Homo sapiens: one gene and its partners. The protein of the gene in region 1 interacts with the protein of each later gene in a pairwise test. Each region holds a gene or a part of one and is shown in the gene's direction. Other genes may lie near its edges. The genes, in order: CLEC7A, OCLN and BNIP3L.

Evidence for each region.
Region 2: the proteins of CLEC7A (region 1) and OCLN interact in binary tests that used the Homo sapiens proteins (3 or more experiments, as listed by UniProt).
Region 3: the proteins of CLEC7A (region 1) and BNIP3L interact in binary tests that used the Homo sapiens proteins (3 or more experiments, as listed by UniProt).

The regions. Positions count from the first base shown.
Region 1 is NC_000012.12:10,116,277-10,124,418, reverse strand, and holds the end of CLEC7A (C-type lectin domain family 7 member A), read left to right. Parts: intron 1-1,055; coding exon 1,056-1,174; intron 1,175-5,828; coding exon 5,829-5,961; 3' UTR 5,962-7,642; downstream 7,643-8,142.
Region 2 is NC_000005.10:69,485,741-69,497,459, forward strand, and holds the start of OCLN (occludin), read left to right. Parts: upstream 1-7,049; 5' UTR 7,050-7,160; intron 7,161-9,285; exon of another isoform or gene 9,286-9,675; intron 9,676-11,719. UniProt on the Homo sapiens protein: May play a role in the formation and regulation of the tight junction (TJ) paracellular permeability barrier.
Region 3 is NC_000008.11:26,404,388-26,415,180, forward strand, and holds the end of BNIP3L (BCL2/adenovirus E1B 19 kDa protein-interacting protein 3-like), read left to right. Parts: intron 1-3,612; coding exon 3,613-3,716; intron 3,717-3,839; coding exon 3,840-3,989; intron 3,990-5,976; coding exon 5,977-6,025; 3' UTR 6,026-8,740; downstream 8,741-10,793.

The DNA.
Region 1 (8,142 bases):
CATCATGAATGAAGGGTAGAGCTTCAATGAGGTAAGATAAGGGGTTAATAGGAAAAATTCTATGTTATAAATCTAAACCAGTCTATAACTTCTACACCTACTTTCACTATTCTTATTTTGTTTTTGTTTCTGTAATGTCTTACCCAGTAGTAATAATTTATATTAAAGTTAATGGAACTAGATATATGGCAAAGAAAGAGTACTGGATTACAAGTCTATCTGACTTTTAGGCCAGCCTATAATTGAAAATAAATTGTTATAGATTTGTAAACAATTCAGATATCTTCACTGAACCTCAGATTACATATTCATAAAATATACAGTTGGACTAAATTATTTTTAAGTTGTTACCTAACTCTGAGAAGTACTTCTTAACGAAAGTAGCGTCAATTTATTTCTTCAATTGGAGGAGAAGACAATGGCTAATCATCCATGAAAACTGCCTAGGGGGACTGTCATCTGGGATTTTGTCAGATAGGTTGAATGGAGGCAGTACAGTCCTCACATTACAAATCTATTCTTTTGGAAAATTAAATGATAATTACTTTAAATAAATAAGATAGGCCTTTTGAGACATTCAATGACATTCAAAAATTGGCACTTCTCTCTAGGTTGATGTCAGGTTAGGCATGCATTCTTTTTTTTTTTTTTGAGACGGAGTCTCGCTCTGTCGCCCAGGCCGGACTGCGGACTGCAGTGGCGCAATCTCGGCTCACTGCAAGCTCCGCTTCCCGGGTTCATGCCATTCTCCTGCCTCAGCCTCCCGAGTAGCTGGGACCACAGGCGCCCGCCACCGCGCCCGGCTAATTTTTTGTATTTTTAGTAGAGACGGGGTTTCACCTTGTTAGCCAGGATGGTCTCGATCTCCTGACCTCATGATCTACCCGCCTCGGCCTCCCAAAGTGCTGGGATTACAGGCGTGAGCCACCGCGCCCGGCCTTGCATTCTTTACCAAAGTGATTCAATCAGTTGTCTTTTTCTCAGCGTCCATGATAATAGTTTCTTTCTCTCTCTCTCTCTCTCTTTATTATATATTTGTATATGTTTCATTACAGGGATTTATAGTAAAACAAGTGTCTTCCCAACCTGATAATTCATTTTGGATAGGCCTTTCTCGGCCCCAGACTGAGGTACCATGGCTCTGGGAGGATGGATCAACATTCTCTTCTAACTTGTAAGTGTTTGGAGAGACAATGCTTCATCCTTTTTCTCAGAGAGGTTTCCATCTCATCTATGAAAACCTCTGTCGAGCAGCTAAGAACCTGATTTGCTCACCATATATGAGAAAGAGAGGGAGAAAGATATAGAAGAAGAGAAAGAGTGAACTAGGACAAGAGGAGAAAGATGAGGAGGACCTTAGAGTGAAAAAGAGTGAGGCCATCTAGTAGCATCAACACAGATATTCTTCTGGTTTTCTTACTAGGGAGGCATCGACATGTTTGAAGTTGTCCAGGCAAGGAGCAGTCACTGTCAGTCAGTGTAACTCCCCGGTTAAGAGCATGGGTTTTGAAGCCAGGCCTCAGTTTGGGTTAATGATTACCCCACTCACTGATTGTGTGACACTGGGGATAAGTCACTTTTCCTCTCTGAGTCCCATTTTCCATAAACAAGAATAGAAAGGTGCTCTTGGCCAGGTGTGGTGGCTCACACCCGTAATCCCAGCACTTTGGGAGGCCCAGGTGGGCGGATCACTTGAGGTCAGGAGTTTGAGACCAGCCTGACCAACATGGTGAAACCCCACCTCCACTAAAAATTTAGCCGGGTGTGGTGGCATTGCCTGAAATCCCAGCTACTCAGGAGGCTGAGGCAGGAGAATTGCTTGGACCTGGGAGACAGAGGTTGCAGTGAGCTGAGATTGCACCATTGCACTCCAGCCTGGATGACAGAGTGAGACTCCAGTGAGACTCCAACTCAAAAAAAAAAAAAAAAAAAAAGAAAAAAAGAAAGAGTGCTTTCCTCTTAGAATTGTGAGATGGGTATAAAAGTAAAATAATTTAGCACAGTGTCTTGTACATAGTTAATGTGTGAGACTTATTATTAAGTTAAAAAGCAACCACATTTTCACATTTTGCATTTTAGAAAGATATTTTAAACGTATTTCACATTTGCCTGATGATACATTATTCCTTATTATGTGGTTTCTGTCACTGCTGTTGTCATTCATTTGCTTTTTAATATCTGCAGAATATGAAATATGTCTCTTTTAAGTTCTTATTATTAGTGTGTGTGTGCACACCTGTGTGTGTTTTTTCATCTGTCTCAGTAGGAGTACCGTTCAATTTGGTTTTTCAAAGAAAGTAACTTTTGACTTTGTTGACTCTGTCTTTTTATTATTTCTTTCATTAACTTTTATTCTAATCTGTATTACTTCCTTCCATCTAATTTATTTTTATTTTATTTTGTTTTATTTTTTGAGACAGAGTCTCACTCTGTCACCCAGGCTGGAGTGCAATGGCGATCTCGGCTCACTGCCAGCTCCGCCTCCCGGGTTCACGCCATTCTCCTGCCTCAGCCTCCTGAGTAGCTGGGACTACAGGCGCTCACCACCATGCCCGGCTAATTTTTTGTATATTTAGTAGAGACGGGGTTTCACCGTGTTAGCCAGGATGGTCTCGATCTCCTGACCTAATTTATTTGTTTTAAATTTGCTATTCCATCTCAAACTTCTCGTATTGGGTGCTTGCCTCATGAATTTAAGCCTTCCTTTATCTCAAGTATGTAGACTTAAGGCTATAATTTTAATGTATTTTCATTGTCTTTCAGTTCAAAATACTTTCTGATTTCCACTGTGAGCTGCTCTTTGACCCAGGAGTTATTTAGAAATGCATTTCTTAATTTACAAACATATGTGTTTCTGGTTATCTCTTTGTTTTAGGTTTCAGGCTTAGTTCCACTGTGATCAGAGAACATGCTCCACGTGCTTGTAGTTCTGTGATTTTTACGTGCTTCTTCCTCTTTCCATATGAAAAGAATTGTGTTGAAATCTTCCGCTGCGATTCTACTTACAGTTCTGTAAACATTTTATTCGATGTGTTGAAGCCGTGTTATCAGGCACATAAAGATTTAGAATTGTTACTTTTTTTCCCCTTTCTTTCCTCCTTTTTGGACGATTTAACACTTTTTCTTATTCTGTTTTTTTTTTCTGTTCATTTGGAATGTGCTCTTTCATGTCTTTTACATCTCTTTTACTAATCTTTTAGTAGTTGTTCTAGGAATTACACATGTATACTTCACTCATCAAAGACTAACATTAACTGACATTTTTATGTTCTTCCTGACCAATATAAAAATCATAGAGCATTCCTTTACTCTGTTGACTCTCTCCTCAATTTATATGCTATTATATTAATGTATTTATTTTTATTTATTTATTTTTATTTTATCGCCCAGGCTGGAGTGCAGTGGGGCAATCTTGGCCTACTGCAACCTCTGCCTCCTGGGTTCAAGCGATTCTCCCACCTCAGCCTCCTGAGTAGCTGGGACTACAGCTATGCGTCACCAGCTGGGTGTGGTGGTGGACGCCTGTAATCCCAGCTACTCAGAGGTTGAGGCACCAGAATTGCTTCAACCCGGGAGACGGAGGTTGCAGTGAGCCGAGATCGCACCACTGCACTCCAGCCTGGGTGACTGAGCCAGACTCAGTATTAAAAAAAAAAAAAAAGAAAAAGAAAAAAGAAAAAACTAGCCCTTGGGCCGGGCGCGGGGACTCACGCCTATAATCCCAGCACTTTGGGAGGCCGAGGCAGGCGGATCACTTGATCTCTGGAGTTCGATACCAGCCTGGCCAAAATGGTGAAACCCCATCTCTACAAAAAAAAAAAAAAGATATAAAAATTAGACAGACAAGGTGGCGCACAGATTTATGCAGTTAGTATTCATTTCAATTTGCCCACATATTTATGATTTTAGTTGTTTATTTCTTTCTTCCTTTCCAACTGTACATTACAGGTATTTTTTCTTAAGACTGATATTTCCAGTAAGTATAGAATTAGAGGTTTGTTGTTTTTCCTCTCAGCCACTCAAATATATTATTCCACTGTTTTCTATTTTTTACTGTTGTTTTTGAGAGGTCATCTGTTTGAAGGTAATATATGTTTTAAAACTAATGTGTTTACTCAGCACTGAAAAATTCTCAGCCATACTTGCTTCATATTTTGCTTTTCCCCATCTTTTTTCCCTTCTCCTGGAATCCCAGTTACATTCATTACAGACCCATTGACACCATCCTATATGTTTCTTTTGCTTTTTCCTGTGTTTTCATTCTTTTTTAGCTTTTTGCTCCAATCTATGTAATAACCTTTCACATATCTTCCGGTCATCTATTTTTTCTCATCTGTGGCTAATCTACCATTAAAAGCCTCTATTAAGTCTTTTATTTTGTTTGGTGACATTTTCAGTTTTATAATTTTAGTTTAGTTCTTTCTCAAATCTATTATTTCAACACGTATACTTCTACTTTTTCTTCCAACATTCTTAGTATTGTCTTCTAACTTTCAGAATACACTAACCATAGTTGTTTTAGCTTGTGTCTGATAATTCCAATTTTCTATATGTATCTGTTTCTGTTTGTTTTTTTTTTTACTATTTTTCTTTTGTGTTGATTAGTTTTCTCTTATGTCAGATTGCTTTTTATAGTGTTGTTAACATTTTATCTTAAAATCTTTGTAGAATTAATTTGAAGTGTTTTTTCATTTGCCTCTGTTCTCACCACCAGGTCTGTTCACCCAATAGTGTGAACAGTACAAACTGCTGAGCATAATCACTTAACTGTTTTACTTCTACTAGGCTAAGTACAGTGAATTTATTATCAGCCAAATGTATTTTCTACTTTCTTATAGTACTTGTTTGTCTTGAGTTTTCTCTTGCTATTTTAAATGTATGACTAGAGGACTCTTTCTATAATCACAAGTGGGCCCAAGTTAACATTTTGATATGTTACTACTTTTTTGTTTTCCGGGTGGCATTTATTTAATCTAGCTGTGTCTATGCCCCCAAAACACTTATAGGTCAAGGAAAATTTTTAAGGAATAATGCTGGTCAGAGTTCTCCCTGAGGTCTGAATCTAAGTAGTTAATCTTAGCCTTAGTCATCGCTAAAGCAAAGTTTTCTCAATCTTCCAACCTCAGGGTCAAGAGGGAGAGATACATAACCAGGACAAAGAGTGCCAAGTCATAGCTTTTGCACTGACGGTCAGTGATGCTCTTTGAGCTTGACTCATTAACACTGCTACTTAAGGAGATTGAAGACCAAACTGAACAGGACCATGCCTGCATTTAGCAGTGTTGATTTCCATAACTGTCAAGCATTGTATTGTAATATAATTCTGCTTCCAGGATACATTAAAATATACAGAGTTGTTTGCCCTGCCTTTAAATGGCCTGGGCATCTCTGATTCTCTTTTTAGTTCTAGATCTGTTTTAGCATTAATGCTTCTGCTTGGTCTACTCATTAAGTATATCCAGTAATAATTTAATTAAACTGTTACTTGATTTGATAAAGAAACATTTAAGTAATAGGCTGAAAGATATATAAAGAACTTTTTATAGAATATTAAATGATTTTTCTTCTTTGTCAGGAACTTTTTTTTTAGTTTATGCAGCTAGTAGCAGTTCTTGAAAAAAAATTAAGTCGTTTTTCTGCCTTAATAATGGAGACTATTCATTTAACCACTTGAGATTCACAACAATTTAGATTTAAGCCTCCTTTTCCAATAATAGAAACACTTCAGAACTCTTTTCACCAATATCCTTACTAATTTATTTGTGCGCCATGTAGACAGTATTCCTTAACATTTGTTCTAATTACCTCACTGTATTCTATTTTAACAGATTTCAGATCAGAACCACAGCTACCCAAGAAAACCCATCTCCAAATTGTGTATGGATTCACGTGTCAGTCATTTATGACCAACTGTGTAGTGTGCCCTCATATAGTATTTGTGAGAAGAAGTTTTCAATGTAAGAGGAAGGGTGGAGAAGGAGAGAGAAATATGTGAGGTAGTAAGGAGGACAGAAAACAGAACAGAAAAGAGTAACAGCTGAGGTCAAGATAAATGCAGAAAATGTTTAGAGAGCTTGGCCAACTGTAATCTTAACCAAGAAATTGAAGGGAGAGGCTGTGATTTCTGTATTTGTCGACCTACAGGTAGGCTAGTATTATTTTTCTAGTTAGTAGATCCCTAGACATGGAATCAGGGCAGCCAAGCTTGAGTTTTTATTTTTTATTTATTTATTTTTTTGAGATAGGGTCTCACTTTGTTACCCAGGCTGGAGTGCAGTGGCACAATCTCGACTCACTGCAGCTATCTCTCGCCTCAGCCCCTCAAGTAGCTGGGACTACAGGTGCATGCCACCATGCCAGGCTAATTTTTGGTGTTTTTTGTAGAGACTGGGTTTTGCCATGTTGACCAAGCTGGTCTCTAACTCCTGGGCTTAAGTGATCTGCCCGCCTTGGCCTCCCAAAGTGCTGGGATTACAGATGTGAGCCACCACACCTGGCCCCAAGCTTGAATTTTCATTCTGCCATTGACTTGGCATTTACCTTGGGTAAGCCATAAGCGAATCTTAATTTCTGGCTCTATCAGAGTTGTTTCATGCTCAACAATGCCATTGAAGTGCACGGTGTGTTGCCACGATTTGACCCTCAACTTCTAGCAGTATATCAGTTATGAACTGAGGGTGAAATATATTTCTGAATAGCTAAATGAAGAAATGGGAAAAAATCTTCACCACAGTCAGAGCAATTTTATTATTTTCATCAGTATGATCATAATTATGATTATCATCTTAGTAAAAAGCAGGAACTCCTACTTTTTCTTTATCAATTAAATAGCTCAGAGAGTACATCTGCCATATCTCTAATAGAATCTTTTTTTTTTTTTTTTTTTTTGAGACAGAGTTTCGCTCTTGTTGCCCAGGCTGGAGTGCAACGGCACGATCTCGGCTCACCGCAACCTCCGCCCCCTGGGTTCAAGCAATTCTCCTGCCTCAGCCTCCCAAGTAGCTGGGATTACAGTCAGGCACCACCACACCCGGCTAATTTTGTATTTTTTTAGTAGAGACAGGGTTTCTCCATGTCGGTCAGGGTAGTCCCGAACTCCTGACCTCAAGTGATCTGCCTGCCTCGGCCTCCCAAGTGCTGGGATTACAGGCGTGAGCCACTGCACCCAGCCTAGAATCTTGTATAATATGTAATTGTAGGGAAACTGCTCTCATAGGAAAGTTTTCTGCTTTTTAAATACAAAAATACATAAAAATACATAAAATCTGATGATGAATATAAAAAAGTAACCAACCTCATTGGAACAAGTATTAACATTTTGGAATATGTTTTATTAGTTTTGTGATGTACTGTTTTACAATTTTTACCATTTTTTTCAGTAATTACTGTAAAATGGTATTATTGGAATGAAACTATATTTCCTCATGTGCTGATTTGTCTTATTTTTTTCATACTTTCCCACTGGTGCTATTTTTATTTCCAATGGATATTTCTGTATTACTAGGGAGGCATTTACAGTCCTCTAATGTTGATTAATATGTGAAAAGAAATTGTACCAATTTTACTAAATTATGCAGTTTAAAATGGATGATTTTATGTTATGTGGATTTCATTTCAATAAAAAAAAACTCTTATCAAAAAACCCATGGCCTCTAAATTATGTGCCTGTGTGTCACAATCACTATTACAATTTGCCCTCTCCCCAAAAATGATGATGAATTTGGTATGGGTGGAGTGGATATTTATAGTAGATATTTTGATATTAAAGCATTAATTCGCGATCTTAAAAATTTTAAAAACCTAAGAGAAGATAAAGATCTTTGTGAGGTTTACTATTGTTGTTTAATATGCAAATTTGTTTTCATTACTTAAAAACATGTAGAAAGGGAAGAGATAGATAGGTGCAGCAAACCACCATGGCACATATATACCTATGTAACAAATCTGCACGTTCTGCACGTGTATCCCAGAACTTAAAGTACAATTAAAAATACATACATAAATAAATAAATGATGTAATGTATAATAAACATAAAAAAAGAAAGGGAAGAGATAGATCAGGCTGAGAACATGAGGAGTATGGTTAACTGTTTTAAGTAGTTAAAGCATAGGATGGAGTTTGGAAGAGATATCTAGTATTTT
Region 2 (11,719 bases), on another chromosome or scaffold:
CAAGTCATTTATCATTATCTTGTTTATTTTCAGTTTCATCATCTTTGTTGTATTTCCTCTCCTAACTATTTCCTCCCTAAACTTCCATAAAGGACCTTGTCTGTCTTGAGGCCACTGTTATTTCCAGGGCTTAGAACAGGGTCTGGTATACAGCAGGTACTGAGGTAAATATTTCTTGACTGAATAAATATTCCTTTTCACATACAATTCTCATATGTCCCACTTACGCTGTACCGTGTCAGCCAACAACAACATTTCAGGAACTGTAGTGAGTTTTTGCTTGTAGGCTCCTTGAGTTTATCCTAAAGAAACTCCAAGTAAAATCAGAAAAGCTGCCATATGGGGCCAGGTGCAGTGGCTCACGCCTGTAATCCCAGCACTTTGGGAGGCTGAGGAGGGCAGATCACTTGAGGTCAGGAGTTCAAGACCAACCTGGGTAACATGGTGAAACCCCATCTCTACTAAAAATACAACAATTAGCCAGGCGTGGTGGTGCGCGTCTGTAATCCCAGCTACTTGGGAGGCTGAGGTGGGAGAATCGCTTGAACCCAGCAGGTGGAGGTTGCAGTGAGCCGAAACTGTGCCACTGCACTCCAGCCTGGGCGACAGAGTGAGACTCCGACACTCTGTCTCAAACAAAAACAAAACAAAAACAAAAAAACAAGAAAAGCTGCTATTTGGAAACCCCTGTATCGAATAAAAGGAGTCCCGTACCTCAAAACCAAAGAATAACAAGAGAAATTTGTGATCTGCTTAAAGTGTATTGGTTTCACACTGACCCAGTTCAAGAGATTTTTCTAGGGTTAGGATTCCTTATGCTAAATTACGAGATAATTATTATTATCTTTTTCAGTTTGGGGACACAGGAGGTAAAGAGCCCCATGAAGTTAAAAGTAGGTAAGCGAAGACAATATTTGGTTAATGTTTACTTTTTCCTCTTTCCTTTTTTGAGCTTAAAAGATTCAGGAAGGCTAGTTCCTGAAAAAGCCTGCAAGGCCAGTTTTCCACTGCAATAGATGACTGATACAATTAAAAAAAAGCAGTCCCAAATCTCTTTCTCTGTATTATCCTTATAATTGTGCCAATATTCTGTCCCACACCAAACCCATTTACTCTCTCTTTAGATGCTGATCTCAACTTACTCTGATCCTATGAATGTATTTTCTGCTGGTATTTGAAAAATGTTATTCACAAAACAAAAATCCTAGATGTGGATCTCCAACTATTTTCTAAGACTGTCTCTAAACCCTATTCTTAGCAAATTTTGGCCGGGTGTGGTGGCTAACACCCGTAATCCCAGCACTTTGGGAGGCCGAGATGGGAGGACTGCTTGAGCCCAAGAATTTGAGACCAGCCTGGGCAACATTGAGAGACCTCATTTCTGTTTATTTATTTGTATTTATATTTATATATTTTTTAAGACAGAGTCTCGCTCTGTCACCCAGGCTGGAGTGCAGTGGCGCTATCTCGACTCACTGCAGTTTCCACCTCCTGGTTTCAAGCGATTCTCCTGCCCTAGCCTCCGAAGTAACTGGGATTACAGGTGCTTCCACCACGCTGGGCTAATGTTTTTTGTATTTTTAGTAGAGACGGGGTTTCACCATGTTGGCCAAGCTGGTCTGGAACTCCTGACCTCAAGTGATCCACCCGCCTCCGCCTCCCAAAGTGCTGGGATTACAGGCGTGAGCCACTGCACCCGGTCTGATCTCATCTTTATTTAAAAACAAAACAAAACAAAAATCAGCCAGTTGTGGGTGCGTGCCTGTAGTCTCAGCTACCCAGGAGGCTGAGGTGGGAAGATCGCTTGAGCCCAGGAGATAGAGGCTGCAGTGAGCCATGATCATGCTACTACACTCCAGCCTGGGTGACAGAGGTGACTCAAAATAATTTTTTTAAATTATGAAATACAAAATTCCTACAAAAATGTATATAAAACATATGCACAGCTTGATAAATTGTTGTAAGGCTAACAGCCGTGTAACTTGGACTCGGGAAGAAACAGAATATTGCCTATATTGCCTATAGACAAAAAGTAGTCCTAAAATATAGTAAAACTGTTCAGAACATTGGTTCAGGAATCAGATGACCTGTATTTGAATCCTGACTCTACAACTTAGTAGACAACTTGAGTAAATGATCAATACTTTCTGAGCTTTAGTTTTCCTATGTGTAAAATGGGGAAAATAATAGTACATCATAAAGTTCTTGTAAAGACCAAAAAAATAAAAATAAAAACCCAGCCGGGGCCGGGCGTGGTGGCTCACGCCTGTAATCCCAGCACTTTGGGAGTCTGAGGCAGGCAGATCACCTGAGGTCAGGAGTTTGAGACCAGCCTGACCAACATGGAGAAAGCCCGTCTCTACTGAAAATACAAAATTAGCTGGGCATGGTGGCTCATGCTTGTAATCCCACTTACTCGGGAAGCTGAGGCAGGAGAATCGCTCGAACCTGGGAGGTGGGGGTTGCAGTGAGCCAAGATCGCGCCATTGCACTCCAGCCTGGGCAACAAGAGTGAAACTCCATCTCAAAAACAAACAAACAAACAAACAACCCAGCCGGGCACGGTGGCTCAAGCCTGTAATCCCAGCATTTTGGAGGCTGAGGCGGGTGAATTGCTTGAGGTCAGGAGTTTGAGACCAGCCTGACCAACACAGTGAAACCCCGTGTCTACTAAAAATGCAAAAATTAACTGGGCGTGGTGGCGGGCACCTGTAATCCTAGCTACTCAGGAGGCTGAGGCAGGAGAATCGCTTGAACCTGGGAGGCAGAGGTTGCAGTGAGCTGAGATTGCGCCATTGCACTCCAGCTTGGGCAACGGAGCGAGACTCCGTCTCAAAAAAAAAAAAAAAAAAAAAAAAAAACCCAAAAACCAGAAAAAAATAAAAAAAAACATAAAACTGCCGGGCATGGTGGCTCACCTCTGTAATCCTAGCGCTTTGAGAGGCCAAGGCGTTAGTATCACCTGAGGTCAGGAGTTCGAGACCAGCCTGACCAACAAGGTGAAATCCCATCTCTACTGAAAATACAAAAATTAGCCAGGCGTGGTGGCAGGTGCCTGTAGTCCCAACTATTCAGGAGGCTGACATAGGAGAATCATTTGAACCCAGGAGGCGGAGGTTGCAGAGAGCTGATCACACCATTGCACTCCAGCCTGGGCTACGGAGGAGACTCTGTTTCAAAACAAACAAACAGAAAACCAAAAAAACACTTAGCATAGTACTTAGAACATGTTTTTCCCTGAGTAAATGGTGCTATTATTATTCTTCCACCTGTTGAAGTTCCTGTTCAGGTGCTGAGTCTCTTTGTTTAAATATGGATTCCTCCCAGGAGGATCTTGCTTAACACATAGGAATAGAGAAGATAAAGGTTTACTCATCTAGTGTAATCATCCTTTTAGAAATTGTCTTCCTAGTGGCTTCCCCATAAATTCTTCCATACACCTGTCCAAGGAAACTGTCCTGTGTGGACCAGAAGCCTCCCCCTCCTCATGACTGGGCAGAGAAACTAGAGGCCTTTCAGGCCAGGCCCTCAGCAACTCCAAACTGAGTTGCCTTGGACACATACCAGTCTTTGAATTCATTTACTAAGCAGGCAAGGCAGAGTGGAAACAGTGGAACTATGTTAATCTCCCGTCTTTTCTCCTCTAAACCCTAGTACTAGAGATGTAAGCCTTGAAATGCTACTAAGGAACGTGCGGGTTTCACAATAGCAGGAGGCCATCTGAGAGGAGGACAAGACTCCACAGGCATGTTGGATTTGGGAAGCAGGGCTATAGTCATTCATTCATTCATCCAACACATAGTTATGTAATTCCTATGTGACAGGAACTATTTCAGGCATATAGGATACAGCAATGGCTTGCTCAATTTATTGAGACTTGTTTCGTGGCTCAGCATATAGTCTGTCTTGGTGAATGCTCCACATTCCCACCAACAGACTTATAAAGACAGTATTGTTTATTATCATCTCAAATTTACGGTGGAAAAAAATGAACCTTACATAGTTTAATTTCCTTTAGTCCTACCCAGCTACCAAGTAGCAACACTGGAATTTGAACTGAGATTTCTGACACCATAATCTGAGCTCTTAAGTTTCTCTTTTACACATAGAAAAGGAGAAACAAATTGTCTTTTCATCTTATCCATTTGACTGCAGGTAAAGTCAACAAGTTTCTAATCATGGGGTTCTGAAAATAATATTTACATTGCTCTGAGTCACGGGGATTTTCATCAAATAATATTCAATAGTGGATACTACTCAATACTACTGTGAGTTGCCAAGAAGGAATATTTGGTAAAAAATATAGTAATTAAATTTTGCTATAATTTATGATTATGTAACATGATTAAATTGAGCATGGCATCATTTAACATCCAACAAATTTTGTTTTGGTATTGAAGAATGATGTGTTTAAGTTTTAAGGCTGGATTTTCTTTCTAGACACTTTCAACTATGAAATATACACAATATTGGACAATAGTTAACCGTTCTTTTGATGTTGTTGTTTAGAAAATTAATCTCAAGCGAATAAAATAGAATTCATACAATTAATGAATCCTATTATTCCATATGGATGAACTCAGAACTAACTAGAAAGTAAGTTTCACAGAGATTTTTGAGTTTTGTTCACTCGTGTGTGTACAGATTAGGCACTCAGAAAATAGTTGAAGGAATGAATTGGGAAAGCAAATAGAATATGAAAGCCTTCTACCCAACACAACATGTCTTTGAGTTTAGGTTTAGGGTGGGAATAAGAAAAATAACATGATATGCATAAGTTATCTTAAAATGATAAAAAGTTTAATTTAAAAACCTAATTTACCAAGAGAACCGAAAACATATGTCCACACAAAAACTTGTACACAAATGTTCATAGTAACATTATTCATAACATCCCCAAAGGAGAAACAACCCAAATGTTCATCAACAGATGAATGATTAAACGAAATGTGATACATCGATACAATGGAATATTATTCAGTTATAAAAAGGAATGAAGTACCAATACATACTACATCATGGATGAACCTTTAAAATATTATGCTAAGTGAAAGAAGACAGACACAAAGGGCACATATTGTATTATCCATTCATATAAAATGTCCAGAATAGGCAAATTAATAGAGACAGAAAGTACATTAGTGGTTGCCGAGGGATGAGGGGAGAGGGGAAATGGGGAGTGACTATTAATGGGCATGGGGTTTCTTTTGGGGGCGATTAAAATGGAATTAGATGGTGGTGATGGTTGTACAATCTGGTGAGTATACTAAAACCCACTGAATTGTACGTGCCCTTTAAAAGGGTGAATTTTATGGTATGTGAACTCTCTTTTATAAAGTGGAAAAAAACTCCTAAGATCTCTTCAGAACATGTCAAAATACATTATAAAATAATAGACATGTGTTTACAAATCTGAGAGTATTAGGAAATGTTCCCTTGTTTAATTATAAACCAAATGGAATGTTTGGAGATTTCAGTAATCTGACAGGGAACATTAAGGGGATTAACCTGACTTCCCCAGTGTTAACAATACCAATTTAAACTGCATCATTCAAAAACTACATAGTCATATTAAAGCATTTGTAGCAATGACTTCCACGAAAAAAATACCAATTAAATTAATTACCCATTAAAGCTGCCATCATCTGAAATACCTCATATTTATATAGTGCTTTTACTTCCTCAAGTATGAATTGTGCCTTAAGATCTAATGTATGGGAGAGTCACATCTCTAACCATTTAATTAAAGGTAGAGAAGTGGGTGGGATTGGATAGAAATTTATTAGCAATGCTGACATTCCAGATTGGAACACAAAGACAAGCAGGATGTAAGAAACCTAAAAGTTCGCTTTCAATGCAGATAGTTAAATGCCAAGAACTATAATTGCCACATCCTGGAGTACAATTAAAAAATATGTTGAAAAACAACCAACATACATAAAAATATACACAGTGTTAAGTGCAGACTATGAAATTTCCCTTGGAAACAGAATCCAGATCAAGAAATAGAATACAGCACCCGGAACTAAGGTGCTTTTTCGTTTTCTTAAAAAAAAAAAAAAAGTAAACCAAGTTTATTTTGCTTTTTAAGTAGTGTTGTTCTTAAAGCACTACAGGTTGGTAAACAACGTATAAGGTGCTTTTTCTCAGGCCAAAGAGCCATAATAGTTTAAATTTCCCGGTCCTCAAGAGCGGACCGGGTGGGCAGGAGAGGACCCTGGGGTGGTGATGTGTAAACTGTATTATGCACTTTAGCCTGCTGGATGGCAACTAACACCTACAGTAGTTCACCCTCATTTTAACCCCTCTAAGTAATTGTCTCTTATTCTGAATCTAGAGATTCAGAAACAGCGCCAATGTTTACACACGACTTTTGAAATTTTCCCAGGAGTCTTTCGTTGGAGCAATACATCTAGATGCCTTTTTCCAGCAACAGTTTAATCAAATTCTGGAAGCAGAAAAGTGTCCTGTGAGGACGTGCCTTTCCTATCAAAGTGCTGAGTGCCTGGACCCTCTTTCCGGAGGAAACAGTCCCCTCTGGACCTCGTTCGGCCTCTCTCCATCAGACACCCCAAGGTTCCATCCGAAGCAGGCGGAGCACCGAACGCACCCCGGGGTGGTCAGGGACCCCCATCCGTGCTGCCCCCTAGGAGCCCGCGCCTCTCCTCTGCGCCCCGCCTCTCGGGCCGCAACGTCGCGCGGTTCCTTTAACAGCGCGCTGGCAGGGTGTGGGAAGCAGGACCGCGTCCTCCCGCCCCCTCCCATCCGAGTTTCAGGTGAATTGGTCACCGAGGGAGGAGGCCGACACACCACACCTACACTCCCGCGTCCACCTCTCCCTCCCTGCTTCCTCTGGCGGAGGCGGCAGGAACCGAGAGCCAGGTCCAGAGCGCCGAGGAGCCGGTCTAGGACGCAGCAGGTGGGACTCGCGGCGCTGGCCCGCAGGCTTCCCGCACCCCCTTCCACGTTGGTGCGCATGCCCGGGGGCAGGGCCGGTTGTAGGGAGGAGGGAAAGGAGAGGGAGAAGGGGGAGGAGACGTCCCCAGCCCAGTCCCCGGCTGAGCGCTGGCGGTCGGTGCGGCGTCAGGTGCGCCCGCCAGGTGAGCGCGCTCCCTGGCACCGTTGGCCCCCGGAGGGTCGGGCCCAGTTGCGGCGAGCGGGTGAGTGTTGGGCGCGGCGTCAGGGGCGCACGGGAGCCCGAGGGTCCCCGTGGGGGGACCGCGGCGACTATGTTAGGGGAGGTGCCGGGGGGAGGACGCTCCGCGCTGGTTTCGGTGGCAGTTTCGTCCCCGAGCTGGGACTCGTGGGAACCAGAGAGGCGCGGGTCTGCGGAGAGAGCAGCACCGGCCAACTTGGGAGGCTGCCTCCTGGGGCGAGGGGTGGCTTGGAGCCGCCGATCAAGCTTTATTCCGCGGAAACGCTGAAAGCTAGCAGTGCCTCAGCGGCGCGGGCAACTTTTCACTTTTATGGGGCACGACATTCCTGAACAGCGACGATCCTGCATCCGCTCTGGGGCTGCAGTTTGGGGGGGCGGCCTTCATGGAGAGGGATCCTGCGCCCAGCTCCTTGGGGGTCCTAAGCCTGAGGCTGCAGCGAGGCGGCTGTTCGGCGGCCCGGGCGGCTTAGATCCCGGGGGGAATTTCATTCCTTCCGCTCCCACCCCACCCCTTTGGATATCCCGGGGAGACGGGGGCTGGATTCAATCTGTGAAATATTCCAGGAGTCACGGTGTGGGCCACACTGGCTACTTCGAATCCACTTGTTGCGAGTTGTGTGAACCCGCGTCGATTTAAGCTGGGGGGCGGGGAGTTAATTTCGAGTGAGGCTGGACTTCGAGGGAAGCTGCTCACGCTTCGGATTCTCATCCGTGACCAAAAGGGCTGCCCCCAGGGGGGCGGAACTGCCTCCGGGCGGTGCCTGCCCGGCGAACGTGGGCGCGCGCTGCCTGGGAGCGCCTCGGTGCGCACGGAAGCCGGGACCCGCGCCCAGCCGGGCCACGGAGTTTGGGGACCTCCGGGACTGGGCCGGCCCCGCGCGCCAGCCATGTTGCCTGCGTCGGAGGAAGCGTGCGGGGAGCAGGGGTCGAGGGCCAAGATGGCCTCTGCGCCTAGGGGTTGGGAGCGGCGCCGAGCCCCTCGCGCTCCTCGGGAAGCCACCGGGCCCGAGGGAAAAGCCGCGGCATCCTTAGGCCGGACCCGGGGCTCGCTGGCCACACTGCCCGCTTGGGGAATTACCCTGCTCGAGGAGGAGGCGGCGGCTTTCCAGGCCAGTCAGTGTGTGGCCCTTAGGCAACAGGTGTATTATTGGGATACCTGGAAAAGAGAAACGTTTCCCATGAAGGCACTTATGGTGTTTTTTGGTGATTCTTGGTGTGATAGAAAACTAGGCGTTCCCAAGTGTAACAATAGTAACAGTAGTTCTTTTGCACTGTACATATGAGGTGCTTGTGTGTGTGTGTGTGTGTGTTTTTCCGAGACGGAGTCTGGCTCTGTCCCCCAGTGCAGTGGCATCATCTGGGCTCACTGCAACCTCTGCCTCCCGGGTTCAAGCGATTCTCCTGCTCAGCCTCCCGAATAGCTGGGATTACAGGCACCCACTAGTATGCACAGCTAATTTTTGTATTTTTAGTAGAGACAGGGTTTTGCCATTTGGTCAGGCTGGTCTCGAACTCCTGACCTCAGGTGATTCGCCCGCCTTGGCCTCCCAAAGTGCTGGGATTACAGGCGTAAGCCACCACACCCAGCCTTTATGAATATTTTCTTAGTGGTGCTTTAAAATAGACATCTTAAGTGTGTGTGGGAGGCAGAGATATTTCCTCAAACAAAGCAACACTTTTTTTTTGGTCGTTTTGCAATTTATTTAGTTATTAGGGGCCTCCTTTGTTAGGTGACGGAGCAGAGGATAGGGAGATCGGTAAGACATGATTCTCCACCTTTTGGCAGTTTCCAGGCCATTTCGGGAAATAGTGGGCAGCAGTGCCTCCTGCACGTGAGGCACTGTGGTAAAAGCATTCTGTATTTTCTCATTTAATTATCCCAACAACTCTAAAAGGCAGGCCTTAGTAGAACTCCATTTTAAAAGTGGGCAAATGCCGTGGGGGAAACGTTGCAGGTGGGCTTGCTTGCAAACTGCTTCAGCTAATATGGGAAGGAGTATCAGAAGCAGCGGTCCTTGATATTCCAGAACCAGATTTGGGGAATTTTTCTGGACTTTTCTACCATTGACTAGTAACTGTAGCCTGATACAAGATTTCCCGCATTTTGCTTGATATCAAGGTAAAATTCTTGTTTTCTTCTAAAGGTAGTGTTGGAATTACTACCTTTTCAAAATAGTATATTACTTTTAACCACATAAATGATCTGATGTAATATCTTTCATCTTCCTAGGAACCTCCCAGAAGGAAGTTTTCTTCAGTTGCATTTTAAGGCTTATTTGATTGGAATATTAATGGATCTTTTTCATCAAATTACTATTTATGGAAATAAGAGAGTAAACAGACCATGCAGATTTATGTTAGGCTTTTTGTTTTAACCCCTAGGCTTGCCGCTGTTCCGTAACCCAGTGATTCCAGTCTTGGCTGTGGTATGAATCACTTAGGGATCCTATTAAAACACAGATTCTGATTGGGAGGTCAGGAGTGGGGCCTGGGATTCTGCCTTTCTAACAGGCTCACAGGTGATTCTCAGACTGTTCTGTCTTCTTTTTCTCCCTTTCTCTTAGACTCTACGCACTTAATTACATTTGACAAACTGAAGTTGGAAAAAATAACGTTTATTGAGTGTTGTGTGAAGAACTTCAAGGCATTCACTGCTGGATTGAAATCCCAACTCTAATAATTGACTGTTGGTTTTATTAATTGAGTACTCATTGACAATCACTTTGTGCCAGGGCTAGTTCCAGCGACCAGGGATATAAATGATGGTCAAAATAGACATTTGATGTCTGGGATATGGGCATTCCAGATGCGGTGGAGATGATACCTATATTTTAGGTATGAGGGCAGAGGGGAGTTTGCTCTGAAAAAAAAAACAAGTTTTGTGTGATGGAGTGAGGGACAGGGAGGGCATCTCCCAGAAGGTGACGTCTGAGCTGAGACCTGAACAGCAGGTGTCTGTTGTGTAAAAGATCTGGGCTTTCTAGACAGGAAATTGCAAGATCAATGTCCTTTTTGGATTGACACCTTTATTGTAGACAGCAATTCTCAAAATATGTGATGTGTTTAAAAATCACCTGGAAGATTTATTAAAAATACAATTTCTGACACAGAGTCTATTACAAAATCTGCCTAACTTCAAATTTTTAGACAATTTACTAATGATGTGCCTGTAGTCTAAATCATTTAATATAAGGCACAACTTAAACTTTTTTTTTTTTTTTTGAGACAGAGTCTCGCTGTCTCCCAGGCTGGAGTGCAGTGGCACGATCTTGGCTTACTGCAAGCTCCGCCTCCCGGGTTCACACCATTCTCCTGCCTCGGCCTCCCGAGTAGTTGGGACTACAGGCGCCTGCCACCATGCCCAGCTAATTTTTTGTATTTTTAATAGAGGCGGGGTTTCACTGTGTTAGCGGGGATGGTCTCGATCTCCTGACCTCGTGATCCTCCCGTCTCGGCCCCCCAAAGTGCTGGGATTACAGGCGTGAGCCACCGCGCCCGGCCACAACTTAAACTTTTTAAAGGCAAATTGACAGTTACTGCATGTGCTCTAAAAGGAACAGACTTCTCTTAAATACAATAAAGTTTATTTTTCACTTATTGACAGTTTTCTTTAAAGAATAATTTGAGGCCAAAGCATTTTCAGACTATTTTTTCTTTTTTTATACTTTTTTTTTTTTTTTTTTTTTAAGATAGATAACGGAGTCTTACTCTGTTGCCCAGCCTGATCTTGAAGTTCTGGGCTCAAACAATCCCTCTGCCTTGGCTTCCCAAAGTACTGGGATTACAAGTGTGAGCCACCTTGCCCAGCCTCAGCCTGTTTTTTTCATCTTAGCTTAGTTTTCCATTAAGACAGCTTTTGGTCAGTAAACATTGTCAAGGGGAGAACACTTTATATTTTATCATTAGCCCAAGATGCTGGTTTTCAGATTAACATATTTGACAAGGATCTATCTGCTGCTTCCCTTTTGCCCCCGACTCTAATTTAGCTGTCTGACTTCTGTCCTTGTCACTCTCCTGACATAAGTTCCTGTAGGTGATAAGTGGCCTCTTCATTCTCATTTTTTCCTTCACTCAACACATGTACAGATTGTTAATGTTGCTGTGCTGGGCATTGGTCCTCTTTCACCTTTGGCTGCTGGCCTTAAAGCACAGTCACAGATTCACTTTGAAAGAGACCTTAGAAGTCTTCCAGTCTGGTCTCCAAAAAAATATCAAATAACTTAAGCTTTGCATAAATTGCATGAGCTCAAATTGTTGTTAGTTATTTTCGGAGAGGGTGTGGGGTCAGGGTGAGGGAGAGGCTTCCTAACATTGAGATGAAATCAGCCTGTGGTTTTTGGAATTTTTTTTTTTTAACCATTTCTAGGATAACAAAGACAGCTCTTCATATATTTCAGGGCTGCTAAAGCGATTCTTCTGACGTTAAGTTCTCCAGGCCAAACATTTCCTGTTTTTCCAATCATTTGTCTTAAGACATGGTTTTTCTAGATTTTTTTTTTTTTTTTTTTTTGAGCCAGAGTCTCACTGTGTCGCCAGGCTGGAGTGCGGTGGCACAATCTTGGC
Region 3 (10,793 bases), on another chromosome or scaffold:
ATGGTATACAGCTTAATATCCATATTTAGAGGACAGAGTGACCTTGAGGTAAACCAGAGAAGGAAAACTTAAGTGATCAGAAAACAAAGAACTCCATGTGAGAGAACAGGCTAGAACGATCAGAATCTTCTTTGTTTTTGTTTTTTGTTTTTGAGATGGACCTCACTCTGTCACCAGGCTGGAGTGCAGTGGCATCGGCTCACTGCAACCTCTGTTTCCAGGTGGTTCTGCTGCCTCAGCTGCCCAAGAAGCTGGGATTACAGGTGTGCACCACAACGCCTGGCTAATTTTTGTATTTTTAGTAGAGACAGGGTTTCGCCGTGCTGGCCAGGCTGGTCTCAAACTCCTAACCTCAAGTGATCCGTCCACCTCGGCCTCCCTAAGTGCTGGGATTACAGGCATGAGCCATGGTGCCCAGCCAGAATCTTCTTTGAATAGATGTAGGTATAGAGAGAGGATTATTGATTTTAAAAGCACAAATCTTACGTAATTAGATTAAGTACATTTTTACCATATTCTGGAATTCTAAGAATTGGAAGGCAGTTTAAAACCTGAAAGTGGCAAATTTAAGATTAATAAAAGGAAGCACAGAGTGGTAGTGAATGAGGAAAGCTTACCACTCTTATTCTTAAAGTATTGTAAGTTGGGAAACTTATGGAGTTCTTTTTTGTTTTGTTTTCTTTTTAAAACACTTGTCCAGAGATAACTTTGCTTCATTCAACTGAGAAAATTCCATCCTCATGAAAAAAAAAATTAGAGCGTGAAATCTTACTGCGTTTCATTCTGTCAGAAATTATGAAATATTAACTTGTTAAATCTTTGAGCAGGTTTAAAGAAAGATCTGTGAGGCCAAAGCAGGAAACTAAACAGAAGCGACCTGCAGTGTGTTGAGTATAGTCAGATATTGTGTGTACAGGAACTGATGTGCAAGTAAATTGTAACAGTTTATTGTTTTTGATTTGGGATGATTTCAGTGTTACTCCAAAGAGCCAACTCATGATTCTGAGTAATCTCAATAGCCAATGGAAGGAGCTTAATCCTAAATGCTACATTGTGTCATTCAGTGGAATTTGCCAAGTTCAGCAGAACTAGATAAGATTGGTACTAACAAGAGCAGCAGAACGCACAGGGGTTTTACTTTGCCCTGTCTGAAGCTCCTTCCTGGGGTAGCTGTTTCACAGAGAACTAGACCTGTCAAGAGTCATGTGAATATGTCAGACTCTGCATTTCTTAGCTACCTACTGAAAAGAATGACAGCTTTGGTCATTCTTTTGAGTGAATCCTAGTCAAACAAAATAAAATGTCAAAATGCTTCTTAGTTTTGAGACCCCTGGGTTTGGGATCATAGCATGACATCCCTTAAAACTGACTATGACCAGGCACGGTGGCTCACGCCTGTAATCTCAACACTTTGGGAGGCTGAGGCGTGTAGATCACTTGAGGTCAGGAGTTCGAGACCAGCCTGGCCAACATGGTGAAACCCCGTCTCTACGAAAAATATAAAAATTTGCCAGGTGTAGTGCCAGGCGCCTGTAATCCCAGCTACTCTGGAAGCTGAGGCAGGAGAATTGCTAGAACCCAGGAGGCAGAGGTTGCAGTGAGCCAAGGTCGCGCCACTGCACTCCAGCCTGGGTGACAGAGCGAGACTCCGTCTCAAAAAGAAAACTGAATAAATAATACTGAATAAATAAATATCATTTTTAGGACTTTTTCATTCCTTTTGGTTCTATTAAAAGGGGAGCTATTGGAAATGTTAATTGTTCTTGGCCTGAAACTTTAGGTTATAATAAGCAATTTTTAAAAGTCACATTTTTTATTTTATTTGATATGACACATGTTAAATTCTGACTCAACTTATTATAGATTATTCCCAAAAACTTTTGGCTAACATAGTTTCGAAACCTTGGAAAATGTTTGTATAGCAATTTGTCCTAAAAATATAATCTCCTTCCAGAGAGTAAACCCTGGTGCTTAACAGTAGGGCCTCTCTATACAGTATTCCTGGGTTTGAATACTGGCCCTGCTATGTACTGGTTGTGGAACCTTAGGCAAGTTATTTAATCTATGTCTCAGTCTCCTCATCTGTAAAATGGGATTTTAATAATTATTTTTATAGGGTTATTTGTTGCAAGGTGAAAGTTAATGCATGTGGCTGGGTGCAGTGTCTCACACCTGTAATCCCAGCACTTTGGGAGGCTGAGGCAGGGAAGATCCCTTGAGCCCGGGAGTTCAAGACCAGGCTGGGCAACATAGTGAAACACTGTCTCTTTAAAGAAATACAAAAATTAGCTGGGCGTGGTGGCACACACCTGTAGTCCCAGCTACTTGGGAGGTTGAGGTGGGAGAATTAATTGAGCCCAGGAGTTCGAGGCTGCAGTAAGCTGTGATTGCACTCTGGCCTGGGTGACACAGGAGACCCTGTCTCCAGAAAAAAAAAAAAAATGCATGTAACATGCTTGGAATAATATTTGCCCCTTTAAGTGCTCAATAAATACTATTATTTATTTCCTCATCACATCTCTCACTTATTTTTGTTTTACTTCTCATCATTTTATTTTTAGCATATCCTTTTATTTCCTTTTATTTTTTTAATTATGAAATTTTTTTTTTTCTTTTTTTTGTTGAGATGGAATCTCACTCTATCACCCAGGCTGGAGTGTAGTGGCTGGATCTCGGCTCCACCTCCCAGGCTCAAGCAACCTCCACCTCCCAGGCTCAAGCGATTCTTCTGCCTCAGCCTCTCAAGTAGCTGGGATTACAGGTGCCCGCCACCATGCCCGGCTAATTTTTTTTTGTTTTGTTTTGTTTTGTTTTTTGAGGCGGAGTCTCGCTCTTTCCCCCAGGCAGGAGTGTAGTGGCGCGATCTCTGCTCACTGCAAGCTCCGCCTCCTGGGTTCACGCCATTCTCCTGCCTCAGCCTCCCGAGTAGCTGGGACTACAGGTGCCCGCCATCACGCCCAGCTAATTTTTTTGTATTTTTAGTAGACACAGGGTTTCACTGTGTTAGCCAGGATGGTCTCGATCTCCTGACCTTGTGATCCGCTCACCTCGGCCTCCCAAAGTGCTGGGATTACAGGCGTGAGCCACCGCACCCAGCGTGTAAGTTTTGTGTTTTTTTTTAGTAAAGACGGGGTTTTACCATGTTGGCCAGGCTGGTCTCCAGCTTCTGACCTCAAGTGATCCGCCTGCCTCAGCCTCCCAAAGTGCTGGGATTATAGGCATGAGCCACTGCACCCGGCCTAATTACGAAAATTTTAAGTGCATACAAGAGAGAATAATATAATGGACCTCCATGTAAGTATTGCCCAGATTTAACTCTTATCGAGGTTTTTCATACTTCCCTTAGCATTACATCCCAAAGTACAGTCTTATGCAGTTCCTGTGCTGTGCTTAGATATCCCAACAGTGAAGCTCACTCAGGTTGTTCTGAAGATATTACATACTCTGATCTTACATTATTTTTCAGCATTTTTTAGAAAAGCAACATGTTTGTTATCTAAAATTTCTGAGACACAACCTTATGAGTTTGGTATCTTTTCTGTCTAGATTTTTCTTTGTATTAGGAGGAATTGGTCTTCCTTTTTTTCTTAAAGTTTGAATTCTTCTTTACAGTCAGAAGAAGAAGTTGTAGAAGGAGAGAAGGAAGTCGAGGCTTTGAAGAAAAGTGCGGACTGGGTATCAGACTGGTCCAGTAGACCCGAAAACATTCCACCCAAGTGAGTTCTCACATGTTTCTTGTCAGTGGACACAGTTGATCTGCGCACGCTTACAGGCAATGGGCCTGGTAATCCCCACGATATTTTCAGCAAATGACATCTGCCTCTGAATTTCTTTCTCAGGGAGTTCCACTTCAGACACCCTAAACGTTCTGTGTCTTTAAGCATGAGGAAAAGTGGAGCCATGAAGAAAGGGGGTATTTTCTCCGCAGAATTTCTGAAGGTGTTCATTCCATCTCTCTTCCTTTCTCATGTTTTGGCTTTGGGGCTAGGGTAAGTACCGGTCAACTCCTGAAGTTTTTTCCATTCATTTTATCCTCTTATTTTCAGATTGAAGAAATGTATGTGAAAGCAGTTTTTATTGCTTTACTTTCAATGTTTTAGTGCAAATAAGGTGAACTTAAAAAAGTGGGTGCACAATTGTTCTACAAATAAGCATTTTTAATAATAGTAGAGTGTGTTTTCTTATTTGAAAATAAGATGTTTGGCCTGGTGTGGTGGCTCATGCCAGTAATCCCAGCACTTTGGGAGGCCAAGATGGGTGGATGACCTGAGGCCAGGAGTTCAAGACCAGCCTGGCCAACATGGTGAAACCCGGTCTCTACTAAAAATACAAAAATTAGCTGGCCATGGTGGTACATGCCTGTGGTCCCAGCTACTTGGGAGGCTGAGGCAGGAGAATCGCTTGAACATGGGAGGCGGAAATTGCAGTGAGCCGAGATCATGCCACTGCACTCCAGCCTGGGGGATAGAGTGAGACTCCATCTCGGAAAAAAAAAAAAAAAAAAGAAGATGTTCATAATAATCCCCTAAATGATCAAATGTAAGCGGACTCCTCTGTGATTGATTTTTCTTTTTGGGTTTTGTTGTGTAATATTTAATCTTGAGTAATTTATGAACTAAACTAATCTTTAGCATGTACATTTTGTGGTCAGTGCAAATACCTTTTTTTCATATGGGAAAATACATGATTACATTGAATAGTTTTTTTTAATGAAACTGGTAGGTTGATTGGTGCTAATTTTTTCCTTTTTTAACTTTGTAGTATTTTCATTTATTTTGCTAAAATCAACCTCATATTTACGTGTAATTCATTAGTTTCTTAGCCACATCTTTTAAATAAATTGCTTTTTTTCCTTGATTTAAACAATTGAGGAATTACACTTCTGAAAGATTTTAGGAGTTAAACAGTAGCTGTTAATTTTTTTCAAGACGTATGTTGTGCTCTAAGCATGCCCAGTGGGTCATTTTCAGTATAAGATATGCAGAAGATGGGGTCATCCTTTTTCTTCCCTTTAAGGAGCTCAGCATATTGGAGAGAGATTCTTAGTCACGACCTCAGAAACTTGCATACAGCTTTCCACACACCCGTCTTGTCTCTCTTGGGTGCTTGATCTGCTTTTGTGAGGGCAAGGACAGTAATCAACAAACAGCAACCTAGAAGGGGTTTGTGCAGAAGGGGACTGTGTGACTGTTGCGTGGGGGTTGATGTGGGGCAGGTGTAGGAGTTTAATACATTGCTGCCTATACAGCAGTTCATTGCCCTTAAGCGATTGGTGTCTATACCTTGCCGTCTCTCTTTCAGTCATCTTCAGATTGTTTGTCTTGGCTGTAAGTATAACTATTGCTATAGATGAATGTAAAAAGAGTGTTTAAAAAGTTCGTTGCTTTAATTGCACTGGAGGTGAAGCTAGTTACATACTTTCCTTAACTTCCCTTCTGCTTTTGCTGTTGAAGAGGCCAAATACTTTCTTGGCATGAAAAAGTATTATAAGGCCCCTAATCCTTAGGAGTTATTAGTAAGAGCTGTCTTTAAAGCACTGGCAGCTTTTAAGGTTTTTTTTTTCTTTTGTCCTACATAGAGCACCAGAATAATTTCACATATTACTATATTTTTGTGTCTGAAATGTCAGTAGAACCTTCTGTCCACCAAAGAGGAACATCTTGAAGGAGTTGGGCTGCTTTATTTACTCTGTGGAGGGATCTGTTCTCTCTGGCTTTACTTTGTCTAATCACTACCCCTTTGCTGTCGAGCCCCGATATTTAATGAGTAAACAAACTCATATAAAACCAGTTTGGCCGGGCTGGTGACTGGTTTTAAGAAAGTCAGTGATGATTTCACGGTGTTTGGGGAGCGGTACCCACAAACCTTTAGAGCCTTTTACAAAGACTGAAGAGTTTTAAGTAGAGTTCAACCTGTGGACAAGCTGGTATAGAACTGTTGAAACAGGTGAAACATGATGCTTCTGCTTCCTTTCAGCATCTATATTGGAAAGCGACTGAGCACACCCTCTGCCAGCACCTACTGAGGGAAAGGAAAAGCCCCTGGAAATGCGTGTGACCTGTGAAGTGGTGTATTGTCACAGTAGCTTATTTGAACTTGAGACCATTGTAAGCATGACCCAACCTACCACCCTGTTTTTACATATCCAATTCCAGTAACTCTCAAATTCAATATTTTATTCAAACTCTGTTGAGGCATTTTACTAACCTTATACCCTTTTTGGCCTGAAGACATTTTAGAATTTCCTAACAGAGTTTACTGTTGTTTAGAAATTTGCAAGGGCTTCTTTTCCGCAAATGCCACCAGCAGATTATAATTTTGTCAGCAATGCTATTATCTCTAATTAGTGCCACCAGACTAGACCTGTATCATTCATGGTATAAATTTTACTCTTGCAACATAACTACCATCTCTCTCTTAAAACGAGATCAGGTTAGCAAATGATGTAAAAGAAGCTTTATTGTCTAGTTGTTTTTTTTCCCCCAAGACAAAGGCAAGTTTCCCTAAGTTTGAGTTGATAGTTATTAAAAAGAAAACAAAACAAAAAAAAAAGGCAAGGCACAACAAAAAAATATCCTGGGCAATAAAAAAAATATTTTAAACCAGCTTTGGAGCCACTTTTTTGTCTAAGCCTCCTAATAGCGTCTTTTAATTTATAGGAGGCAAACTGTATAAATGATAGGTATGAAATAGAATAAGAAGTAAAATACATCAGCAGATTTTCATACTAGTATGTTGTAATGCTGTCTTTTCTATGGTGTAGAATCTTTCTTTCTGATAAGGAACGTCTCAGGCTTAGAAATATATGAAATTGCTTTTTGAGATTTTTGCGTGTGTGTTTGATATTTTTTACGATAATTAGCTGCATGTGAATTTTTCATGACCTTCTTTACATTTTTTATTTTTTATTTCTTTATTTTTTTTTCTCTAAGAAGAGGCTTTGGAATGAGTTCCAATTTGTGATGTTAATACAGGCTTCTTGTTTTAGGAAGCATCACCTATACTCTGAAGCCTTTAAACTCTGAAGAGAATTGTTTCAGAGTTATTCCAAGCACTTGTGCAACTTGGAAAAACAGACTTGGGTTGTGGGAACAGTTGACAGCGTTCTGAAAAGATGCCATTTGTTTCCTTCTGATCTCTCACTGAATAATGTTTACTGTACAGTCTTCCCAAGGTGATTCCTGCGACTGCAGGCACTGGTCATTTTCTCATGTAGCTGTCTTTTCAGTTATGGTAAACTCTTAAAGTTCAGAACACTCAACAGATTCCTTCAGTGATATACTTGTTCGTTCATTTCTAAAATGTGAAGCTTTAGGACCAAATTGTTAGAAAGCATCAGGATGACCAGTTATCTCGAGTAGATTTTCTTGGATTTCAGAACATCTAGCATGACTCTGAAGGATACCACATGTTTTATATATAAATAATTACTGTTTATGATATAGACATTGATATTGACTATTTAGAGAACCGTTGTTAATTTTAAAACTAGCAATCTATAAAGTGCACCAGGTCAACTTGAATAAAAACACTATGACAGACAGGTTTGCCAGTTTGCAGAAACTAACTCTTTTCTCACATCAACATTTGTAAAATTGATGTGTTATAGTGGAAAATAACATATAGATTAAACAAAATTTTTATCTTTTTTCAAGAATATAGCTGGCTATCTTTAAGAAAGATGATATATCCTAGTTTTGAAAGTAATTTTCTTTTTTCTTTCTAGCATTTGATGTCTAAATAATTTTGGACATCTTTTTCCTAGACCATGTTTCTGTCTTACTCTTAAACCTGGTAACACTTGATTTGCCTTCTATAACCTATTTATTTCAAGTGTTCATATTTGAATTTCTTTGGGAAGAAAGTAAATCTGATGGCTCACTGATTTTTGAAAAGCCTGAATAAAATTGGAAAGACTGGAAAGTTAGGAGAACTGACTAGCTAAACTGCTACAGTATGCAATTTCTATTACAATTGGTATTACAGGGGGGAAAAGTAAAATTACACTTTACCTGAAAGTGACTTCTTACAGCTAGTGCATTGTGCTCTTTCCAAGTTCAGCAGCAGTTCTATCAGTGGTGCCACTGAAACTGGGTATATTTATGATTTCTTTCAGCGTTAAAAAGAAACATAGTGTTGCCCTTTTTCTTAAAGCATCAGTGAAATTATGGAAAATTACTTAAAACGTGAATACATCATCACAGTAGAATTTATTATGAGAGCATGTAGTATGTATCTGTAGCCCTAACACATGGGATGAACGTTTTACTGCTACACCCAGATTTGTGTTGAACGAAAACATTGTGGTTTGGAAAGGAGAATTCAACAATTAATAGTTGAAATTGTGAGGTTAATGTTTAAAAAGCTTTACACCTGTTTACAATTTGGGGACAAAAAGGCAGGCTTCATTTTTCATATGTTTGATGAAAACTGGCTCAAGATGTTTGTAAATAGAATCAAGAGCAAAACTGCACAAACTTGCACATTGGAAAGTGCAACAAGTTCCCGTGATTGCAGTAAAAATATTTACTATTCTAAAAAAATGAGAATTGAAGACTTAGCCAGTCAGATAAGTTTTTTCATGAACCCGTTGTGGAAATTATTGGAATTAACTGAGCCAAAGTGATTATGCATTCTTCATCTATTTTAGTTAGCACTTTGTATCGTTATATACAGTTTACAATACATGTATAACTTGTAGCTATAAACATTTTGTGCCATTAAAGCTCTCACAAAACTTTTCCTGTCAGTATATCATTTTTCTGTCGCACCTGTTGCCTGGGAGTTTCAGGCGATGAGGCCTCCTCGCCTACACACAGCCTTCCAGTCATCTGGCTTCCCCAGCAGTGGAGTTCCTAACAGTGCTCAGGGTGTGAACGGTGTTCTGTGGGGACAGTCACCGCAGTGTGAGCATTCGTGAGTGCCTCGGGACTGTGGCATTCAGAGCATTTGCCTCCAGGTAGTGGCAGGAGGGCGCTCACGGGAGGAGTGCTCAGGAAGTACAGGAGAGAAGAAGAGTGTGCCCTGATGGAAATGACAGTGGGACACCAGTGAAAGTGGATCCAGAAGGAACTGGAAGTTCCACGTGCCTGGAAAACAGGATGGATACAGAGGAAACTGAAAAATGTAGGTTAGTACTGAACCTAATTGAAATGTGTGTGCCCTCCCAGGGGTCACACTTCATCATATAGTTAGCTGGGTTTACTTCTTTTAAACCAGGAGGTGATTTAAGATGTAAATTTTAGACAGTCAAGCCATCTGGTGAGAGAGTACCAGAGGAGATCAATCAGTTCTCTAGGCGAGGAGCTAGGGCCTGTCCTGGGCTGTCACCCTGAGGTTGGCAGTGGTGGGCCAGGATACGTATGAGAAACAAAGCGGAAGTAAACTGGTCAGAAAGTGACTTAGAGACGAAGGCGTGTGTATTCCTTTGTGTGTGTGGCCCGAAAACATGGGTTGATCCCATTAGTTAAAGGAGGACAGGAGAAGAAATGGGGTGGTAGGAGCAAAGAGGGAGGATTTCAGTTTTGAGTGCGTTGAACATGAAATGTCTGAGGGCCTTCTGATTGGACACTTATTAAATAGAACTATAACCCAGGAGAAGGGTCTGGAGTGGAAGTAAAACACAATCAGACCCATGCATTATATATTTATATGATGTTTAAAGATTGGACAATGGGCAAGGAAGAAAGTTACTCAAACAACAGGGAAGCCCAAAATTTGAAGGCTAAGCAGAAGAGAAGTTCTAGGTGAAATTGTTGGTATCACAGAAACCCCAAAAGTAGGAGGTGACCAAGCCTGACATGTTTCGTGGTTAAGTAAGATGAATCGAGAAGCTTTGGAATATGGCAGTCAGATCTGTGCTGATCTTTGCAAGAGCATTTTCTGTAGGAGTGAAAGAGGGATCCTGGATAAGATTGTGTTGGGTCAATGAATGAATAGCAAGAAGTGTTGGCTTTTTTGAATAAACTTCATGATTAAGAAAACAAGGGGGGAGTTTCTGAAGAGGAGACAGGATAGTAGGATTGTTGGCTTAGGTTGGGAATATAGAGGGGCCAATGTGTAGGCTAAGGAGAGAGAGCAAAGGGAGATATTAGCGTTACGGAGGGAGCAGATCAGTAATGGAAGAGTGGGACGTACTCCCTCCCGGAGAGGAAGGAAATGTAATTAAGCACTCAGGGAGGGTGAGCCTTAGAAAGGTGGAGTTTACAAAACCCAGACATTGATGACAGGAAATGAAGACATGAGAAGGGGTGAGTTAGAAATGGAAAGTGATGAAACCCCTGTCTGGTGGCTCCACTTTCTCCATGTTTGAGGAGGAGGCGGTGGTCGATGCTGAAGGAAGACAGAGCTGTTTCCCATCAGTATCTCCTCTGGAAGGAGACGGGAACTAATGCTGAAATCCTCAAAGCCTTACAATGGCTCCTGCCTTCATTCCCCAGTGCAGCCAGAAGCACCAGGCAGGTGGACTGGGCTCTGCTGCTTCACAGCCTGGGCGACATGATGCTTTGAGCTTCAGCTGTCTCCTGTGTCAAGCCAAGGGGCTGCCCGAGGTGCTCTCTGTGGACCTTTTAATTCTGCAGTTGCTGTTAGTAAATTATGGTTCAGGGTAAAAAGCAGGATTAGGAATGGGTGAATGATCGCTTGAGCCCAGGAATTTGAGACCAACCTGGGCAATATAGGAAGACTCCTTCTCTACTAAAAAATATTAACCAGGCATGGTAGCACACGCCTGTAGTTGCAGCTATTCAGAAGCTGATGGAGGGAGAATTGCTTGAGCCCAGGAGGTCAAGTCT